Regions from separate parts of the Homo sapiens genome. Here region 2 is linked to region 1. Evidence: fine-mapped expression QTL. A gene starts in region 1. The other region holds a variant in brackets. All regions are shown on one strand. Distances are from middle to middle. Region 1 holds the start of MPZ (myelin protein zero). Region 2 overlaps SDHC (succinate dehydrogenase complex subunit C).

The links. PIP is the estimated chance that this variant, and not a neighbour inherited with it, causes the effect.
Region 2: its variant is the best candidate, but not a certain one, in a credible set for the expression of MPZ in whole blood (GTEx, PIP 0.52).

The regions. Positions count from the first base shown.
Region 1 is chr1:161,307,636-161,311,988 of GRCh38, reverse strand. MPZ (myelin protein zero) reads left to right here and starts at 2,021. Exons shown (of 6, transcript NM_000530.8): 1 at 2,021-2,150. The coding sequence starts at 2,084.
Region 2 is chr1:161,331,699-161,336,097 of GRCh38, reverse strand. The region is part of intron 3 of SDHC (succinate dehydrogenase complex subunit C); the gene reads right to left. Among named protein-coding and RNA genes, the nearest start is that of SDHC, 20 kb to the right of the region's middle. The variant A/G (reference allele first, on the strand shown) is at 1,763.

The sequences.
Region 1 (4,353 bases):
TGGGAGGATCGCTTGAGCCTGGGAGGTTGAGGCTGCAGTGAGCTATCATTGCACCACTGCACTACAGCCTGGGCCACAGAGCAAGACCTTATCTCTGAAAAAAAAAAAAAAAAAATTTTAAACTAGCCCAGCATGCTGGCATGCGCCTGTAGTTCCCAGCTACTTGGAAAGCTGAGGTAGGACAATTGCTTGAGCCTCAGAGGTCAAGGCTGCAGTGAGCCATGATCATGCCACTGCATTCCAGCCTGGGCAACAGAGCGAGACTGCCTCAACAAACAAAAAAACCTCAGCTCTGGTTATGTAGACATCCCCATGGCTAACTCCACCCCAACACCTTCAGGTTCTCATGATGTACCAAATTGAATTCACCTTCTTTCACCTGTCATTTAAGGCCTTTCACAAACTGGTTTCGACTTTCCTGTCCAGTCTCATTTCTGACTATGCCACTTCAAGTTTCCCCAAATCAAGTCAAAGTGGATGGCACAAGATCGGCCCTGAATATATCCAACACTTCAGAAACCTACATCTCATATACATACACACACACACACACACACACACACACACACACACACACACACACACACACATTCTGTCTCTCCGTCTCACCTCTTTGTCCTTGCTTTTGCTGTTCTATCTTCTGGTAACCCTCCCTATCTCCCTTTCCAAAATGACAGTCATCCTTCAAGGCTGATTCATATCTAACATTGCCTCCTAGACACAACTATTCTTCCCTCTGAACTATTTATTTGTTTGATTATTTATTTATTTATTTATTTTTGAGACAGAGTTTCATTCTGTAGCCCAGGGTGGAAAGCAGTGGCACAATCATAGCTCGCTGCAGCCTTGATTTCCCAGGTTCAAGCGATCTTCCTGCCTCAGCCTCCCAAGTAGCTGGGACTACAAGCATGTGATAACATGCCCAGCTGATTTTTTAAAAAATTTTGGTAGAGGCGAGGTCTTGCTATGTTGCCCAGACAGGTCTCAAACTCCTAAACTCAAGCAATCCTCCTGCATAAGCCTACCAAAGTGCTGAGATTACAGGTGTCAGCCACTATGCCTGGCATAAACTTCATTTATTAAAGTTTATTTTGTCTTTAATCTCTCATATAACTTAGTCTTCCTGATATTGCAGCTGTGTGTGCCCCTCTTTTGTACTCCCAGCATTTTGTTCATTACTAAAGGAAGTGTCATGGCTTATTATACTTGATTGTTGATGGGTTTGTCCTCTGATCTTCCCATCTCCACCTCCCCAAACCAAATTTTCAACTCCTTGCTGGAAGGACTTAATTTTTATTCCTCTCTCTATTACCTGCATTCTCATACTTTACATATTGCTGGCACTTAATACAATTTTGTAGCCTTGAAATAAATTGAAATGGACTTAAACAGCAGCATGAAGCACTGAAGGACTTCTTGACAAACGGAAAGGTCAGGGGCTTCTTGCCTGGAAATAGTCCAGTGGAGAAAAACTTCTGTCTGGGAAGAATCGCACAGGATGAAGGGAGGTGCGGGGAAAAAAACTCCCATAGGACTTGGTCATCTCAAGAAGTCTGTAATGCAGCCCACATTAGAGGAGATAACAGGGGATATCCTATTTTCAGAGTTCTCTGGGGGAAACCTCCCTCTAGTTCCTAGGGCTGTGAGGCAGCCTCTCTCAGGCAAGGAGGCTGAGGAGAAATCCCTTTTTATGGCCTTTAAATTGAGGTTCCATATCTATCCCTCAGAGAAGTGTGTCTGTGTCCCTGTTTTTGTCCCTCTCCCTCACCACCCCCCACAACATTCCAGCCTGGGGCAGGGGGAGGCCAGTGGACACAAAGCCCTCTGTGTATGGGGTGGTATGTGTCCCCCCACCCCTCCACCCAGACTATACAATGCCCCTTCTGCTCCCTGCACTCTGCCCCCCTCCCCACCACCTCTCAACTGCACATGCCAGGCTGCAATTGGTTACTGGCTGAGGACAGCCCCCTCATGCTGGGGCCCTAGGGGATTTTAAGCAGGTTCCAGGAACCCCCCGTTCAGTTCCTGGTCCCCCACTTTCTCAACCCCACAGATGCTCCGGGCCCCTGCCCCTGCCCCAGCTATGGCTCCTGGGGCTCCCTCATCCAGCCCCAGCCCTATCCTGGCTGTGCTGCTCTTCTCTTCTTTGGGTAAGTGGAGCCACTCTACTCTGGGAGTCTTGGGACTCAGGTGTCTCTCAGCAATCCCCACAGCCTTTGCTGCACTCCCCACTGCAACCAAAGAAAGAACAAGCAGGAGCAGGAAGGTGACATTATATTCAGAAAGAAAAAATATGCGGCTGGGCATGGTGGCTCATGCCTGTAATCCCAGCACTTTGGGAGGCCAAGGTGGGATAATTATTTGAGCCCCAGGAGTTGGAGACCAGCCTGGACAACATAACCAGACTCCATCTGTAAAATTCAAAAAAAAAAAAAATATATATATATATATATGAAAAGAAAAAAATATGCATTTAGAGGGAGGAAGTAGAGGTTTTATTTTAAAAGAAAGGGTAAAAGAGAGTGTAGCAAGCTTCCCTGAGTGGTGGCCATGGCTGGACCCAGGTTGGAAATAGTAGCATGCCCCCAGAGCCATGCTAACAGCCTGGTGGGAAGCAGTGTTAGATTACATAAAGAAATAGGCTCAAACACCTGGGTTTGGTTCCCACTCGTCCCCTAGCAGTGCAGGAGGTGCCTTAACCTTAGTTTCCCAGAAGGAAAAAGAGAGTGCGATCTAAGTAAGGAGCCCAGGTTTGTGGTCTCAGCTCCTCAGATTTTTTGTCTCTCTATGGCTCCTCACCTGTTGTGTGGGTGAATGGAGTGAGGTTCTATGAGATTCTGGGATCTTATCCCTCTAAAGCTGTCTTCCTTCATAAGCTGACCAGCCCTTTCCTTGCCCCCTGGCAGATGTTGGGTGAGTAAGAGGTCAAAGCAGGATTATTGGAATGGCCCCTTCCCTTCTCTGAACTGCCCTGAATCCTAGTGCAATGAGTGAGCCATAGGCAAGTGGGGGTGGTGGGGAGGACATCAAGGGAAAGGGGGCTGGCCAGAATGCCCAGGGTTCTCTGCTGTCAGCTGCTTGAGCCCTAGACTCTTCTGGGTTGTACTGGGCTATTTGGGGGTACCCTGAGAAAATGTTAAAGATAGAGAGTTGGAGAAGGGCATAGTGAGGGAAATAGGGGGAAGGAATCTTGATGTATAAGGAAGAGGGAGAGTTGTGTCTCAACACTTGTTCCACTCATAGAACCATTGAGCACAGCTGAGAAGGGCAATGGTTGATATTGTAACAGGAGGAATAGAAGTTAGAGCCAGTGAATTATCTCCCTTGTTAAACAAGGGGGATTCCCAAGAAGGTTCTAAGGTGGAAGTTCCAGAAGGTAAGTACATGGTATTGCATGCTGAGGTGAGAGATTCAGGACAGTTGGGGTGGGAGTAGGGGTGGCATGAGCCCCCCAGCGTTGGTCAGACAATGGAACTTTGTTTGGTTGCCACCTCCCCCTCCTGTAGAACAAAAAGGTCTACAGTTGCCCCTCCCTGGGGCCAGCCCACACACATAGTCTCTCTGGAATGACCTTCCTTGTGTGGGTAAGTCTTGGGGATGGCACTGGGCCACAGTGGCCAAGAGGAAGGTGAGGACAGTTGAACCATAGAGGGCTCACATGTAGGGTCATCTGAGCTGTAGGCTTGGGGTGTTGCTCTGCACCCAGCTGAGAGGGGTATGAGGCCCTTCCCTTCCTGACTCTCCAGTCAAGAGCAAGCTGTATGGCAACCAGGGATTCAGCAATGAGGACAGTTGTGCCAGGGAAGAAGACTTATATTTTCTAGTTATCTTCATTTTTTTCTGCAAGAAATCTGAGTTTGCTGTATTGTGAAATCCAATGCAGCTGTTAAAATAAGATTGATATCTATGAATCAACAGGGAAAGCTCCTCCAGATACGTAAGTTCTTAAGCAAAAAGACACTAGAATACAATGCAATATGTATGTGGAAAAAAAAACTCCACAAAACTATTTGTTGTAAGTATGTGTATATCTTGAGTTTATTGAGTTTATACTGAGTTTGATTCATATTAAATGGATAACTTGTTACATCTTGGAAGGGAATACAGGAAAGGAATTTGTTGGGCTAAGTGTCAAAGGAGACTTTTGTTTTATTTCTATTGCTTGAATAGTTTATAAGAAGAGTACAATATGTATTACCTGTATAATTTATAATAAATTTTAAAAATTTAGAACACTGCATCTAAAGGATAGCTTAAAAGTTAGATACTGACCCAAAGGAGAAGTGAGACTTAAAGACAGAACCCAATCTCTGGAAGTCCTCAAGAGAATTCTGTTACTGCTGATTTCATCTT
Region 2 (4,399 bases), 24 kb before region 1:
GTTTTAGTGGCATGTCCAGTTTCTACAAACAGGATTATTCCTGGAATCTGGCTTGGAAAAAAACTGAAGGGTTATGGTATTTGTGGAGGTGGTTAAAAAATGGCCAGCCTCACTGGCAGAAACCCAAGAGAGTAGCAGAGCTCAAGATGCTTTGCTGGGTTAGCCTAAAAAAACAAAAAGCAGATTTACAGGGACTTATCTTCAAAGACATCAGCAAAAACTGTTATCAATGCCACTTCTGAAGATGAGATAAACAGAGATGTATGTATATATGTATATATGTATGTATGATGTATGTATATACTTATATACACACACGTATGTATGTGACAGAGATTGCATACATATATATGCTACCTCTATCCACAGACCGGGCCTAGAAGCAATGACATCCTAGTAGCAATGAGCACATCTAGCACCCAGATACTGATTTCACAGGAGTCATTTTGAAGAACTCCTATTGGCCAGGTCTGAGACAATTTGAACACCAAAATAAATAATAACAAAGTATAATCCTTTGGGGAAATTAATGCTTGATCCATATTATCCTTGAGTCCATACTGATAAAAAAAGCAAGCTTTACCCTATCAAAACAAACAAATCTAGAAAATATTATTATAATATATAAAATTAGCAACATTACATTTGGCAACTATCACAGTAATAAATGATTTAGGCAAGTACCTCCAACAGATACTGGTGAGTAAATATCTGATGAGAAAGAATATTTAGAGTTTCAAAGTATCTCCCGCCAAAATATGTATTAATTAATACAACATCCTTATTCAGTAACTTTACAGTAGAGAAATCTAGCAGACACATCTTAAACAGTGACAAAAGTTAACATCACCAGTAATGGGATAAATCATTAGCACATGCCTCCTGATACAATGTACTGACAGAAGTATAGCATTACCGCAGGGGTATTCCTGCCAAAAATGCATAAATCATAAAACACCAAACAAACCCAAATTAAGGAACATTCTAAAAACGTCAAGGTCATAACAAATAAGGAAAGACTAAAAATCTCTCCCATACTGCAGGAAAAAGAGACATGACAACTAAATGTAATATATAATTCTAGGTTCAATCTTAGGCCTATAAAGGACATTAATGGGACAAGTGGCAAAATTTGAATGGGACCTACGGTTTAGATAGTAACATTGTGATGGTTGTACTTTGGAGACTGTCTTGCAATTGAGGAAATGCACAGCCAAGTATTAAGAAGTTGTAGTAGGCAGAATAATAGTCTCCTTAAAGATGTTCATGTTCTAATCTCTAGAACCTATGAATATGTTACCTTTTACGGCAAAGGGGAATTAAGGTTGCAGATGAAATTAAGGTTGCTAATAAGACAACCTTAAGATAAAGAGGGAGTGAGCCGTAATCCCAGAACTTTGGGAGGCCGAAGTGGGAGGACAGCTTGAGCCCAGGAGCTCAAAGCCAGCTTGAGCAACATGGCCAAACTCCATTTCTAGAAAATATTTAAAAATTAGTCAGCCATGGTGGTACATGCCTATAGTCCCAGGTACTTGGGAGGCTGACCTGGGAGGATCACTTAAGCCTGGGAAGTCAAGGCTGCAGTAAGCCATGATCATGCCCCACAAGTTTTATTAAAAACTTGTAGAAAACTTGTGCCATTTCAGCCTGGGCAACACAGCGAGACCCTGTCTCAAAAACAAAACAACATAGACTATCCTAGATTATTAGGACGGGCCCAGTGTAATCATAAAGGTCCTTAACAGCAGAAGAGAGAAATGAG[A/G]AAAAAGAAAAGCAGAAGAGGCTCACAGAAGAAAGGAGTCAAAGAAGAAATGAGATGACGGAAGCAGGGTCAGCATGATGTGACTGAAGAACTCAATGTAGCATTGCTGGTTCTGAAGATGGAGGAAGGAGGGCAGAAGCCAAGGAATTCAGATAGCCTCTAGAAGCTAGGAAAGGCAAGGACATGGATTCTTCCCTAGGGCCTCCAGAAGGAAACAGAGCCCTGCCAACACCTTGATTTTAGCCCAGGGAGATCTTGTCAAACTTCTGACCCACAGAACTATAAGGTAATAAATTTGTGTTGTTTTAAGTCACAACGTTTGCAGTAATTTGTTATGGCAGCAAATAGAAAATTAGTATAGATTGTGGTAACTAGAAGAGGAGTGCAGCTGTAACGAATACCCAAAAATGTGGAAGTGCCTTTGAAATTGGGCAGTGGGAAGGGACTAAAAGAATTTTTAGGACCATGATTTTTAAAAAGCCCAGATTGCCTTGAACAGATTTTAGTAGAAATATGGATGTTGTGCTGGTGAGGATGTGGAGAAACTAGAACCCTTATACACTGCTAGTGTGAATGTAAAATGGTACAGTCACTTTGGAAAACAGTCTGGTAGTTCCTCAAAATGTTAAACATAGGCCGGATGCCGTGGCTCATGCCTGTAATCCCAGCACTTTGGGACGCTGAGGCAGGTGGATCATGAGGTCAAGAGATCAAGACCATCCTGACCGACATGGTGAAACCCCGTCTCTATTAAAAATAGAAAAATTAGTTGGGCGCGGTGGCGCATGCCTGTAGTCCCAGCTACTTGGGGGCTGAGGCAGGAATATCGCTTGAACCTGGGAGGTGAAGGTTGCAATGAGCTGAGACTGCGCCACTGCACTCCAGCCTGGCAACAGAGCGAGACTCCGTCTTTAAAAAAAAAAAAAAAAAAAAAGTTAAACATAGAGTTACCATATGATGCAATAATTCTACTCCTAGGTATATACCCAAGAGAAATGAAACATATGTGCACACAAAAACTTGTACACAAATAAATGGTCATAGCAGCATTATTTCTAATAGCCAAAAAGTGGAAACAGCTCAAACGTCCATCAATTTATAAATGGGTAAATAAAACACTGTATGTACATACAATGAAATATTATTCGGCCATAAAAAGGAAGGAAGCACTGATATATGCTAAAACATGGATGAACGCTGAAAACATTATGGTAAGTAAAAGAAGCCAGTCACAAAGGACCACATATTTTATCACTACATTTAAATGAAATGTTCGGAATAGGTAAGTTTATAAGATGGAAAGTAAATAACTGATTGTCTAGAGCTGGGAGGGACAAACGATTGGTGGTGATGGCTAAGAAATGTAGTGTTTCTTTCTGGAGTGATGAAAACATTCTAAAATTGGCTGGGCATGGTGGCTCATGCCTATAATCCCAGCACTTTGGGAGGCCAAGGCAGGCAGATCACCTGAGGTCAGGAGTTCAAGACCAGCCTGGCCAACACAGTGAAACCCCTGTCTCTACTAAAAACACAAAAATTAGTCAGGCATGGTGATGCACATCTGTAATCCCAGCTACTTGGGAGGCTGAGGCAGGAGATCACTTGAACACAGAAGGCAGAGGTTGCAGTAAACCGAGATCATGCCACTGTACTCCAGCCTGGGCAACAGAGCGAGACTCCATCTCAAAAAAAAAAAAAAGAAAGAAAAAGAAAATATTCTAAAATTGTGGTGATGGCTGAACAACTCTGCATTTAACAAAAGCCACTAAACTGTATGCTTTCAATGTGTGAACCGTATGGTATACAAATTGTATTTCAAAAAGGAAAATATGAATGTTAATTCAGCTAGTAAAGGCTCAGGAGGAAATTAGGAACATGTTATTAAAAACTTGTGGAAAGGGGATCCTTGTTACATAGGGCAGAAAGTTTAGCAGAATTATGTCCCACGATAATGTGGAAAGCAGAATCTACTGAAGTGGCAACCTGATTTCTTTTTGCTCTTTATAGTAAAATGTGAAAGGAAAGAAACAGACTGAGGGAAGAGCTGTTAAATAAAAAGCAAGCTGAGCACGGTGGCTTACAGCTGTAACCCCAACACTTTGGGAGAAAAAGGTGAGAGGATCGCTTGAGCTCAGGGGTTCAAGACCAGCCTGGGTAATATATTGAGACCGTCTTTACAAAAAATTAAAAACTAGCCAGGTGTGGTGGCATGCACCTGTAGTCCCAGCTACTCAGGAGGCTGAGTCAGGAAGATCACTTGAGTCCAGGAGTTCAAGGTTACAACGAGCTATGATCACACCACTACTACACTCCAGCCTGGGTGGCACAGTGAAACCCTGTCTCTTAAATAAAACAAACAAACAAACAAAAAAACAGGACTTAATGATTTGGGAAATTCTCAGCCTTCCCAGCAAAAATACTAAAATTAAGATATTCACTGTTGCCAGGCGCGGTGGCTCATGCCTGTAATCCCAGCACTTTGGGAGGCCAGGGCGGGCAGATCACGAGGTCAGGAGCTCAAGACCAGTCTAGCCAACATAGCGAAACCCCGTCTCTACGAAAAATACAAAAAATTAGCCAGGTATGGTGGTGTGCGCCTGTAATCCCAGCTACTTGGGAGGCTGAGGCAGGAGAACC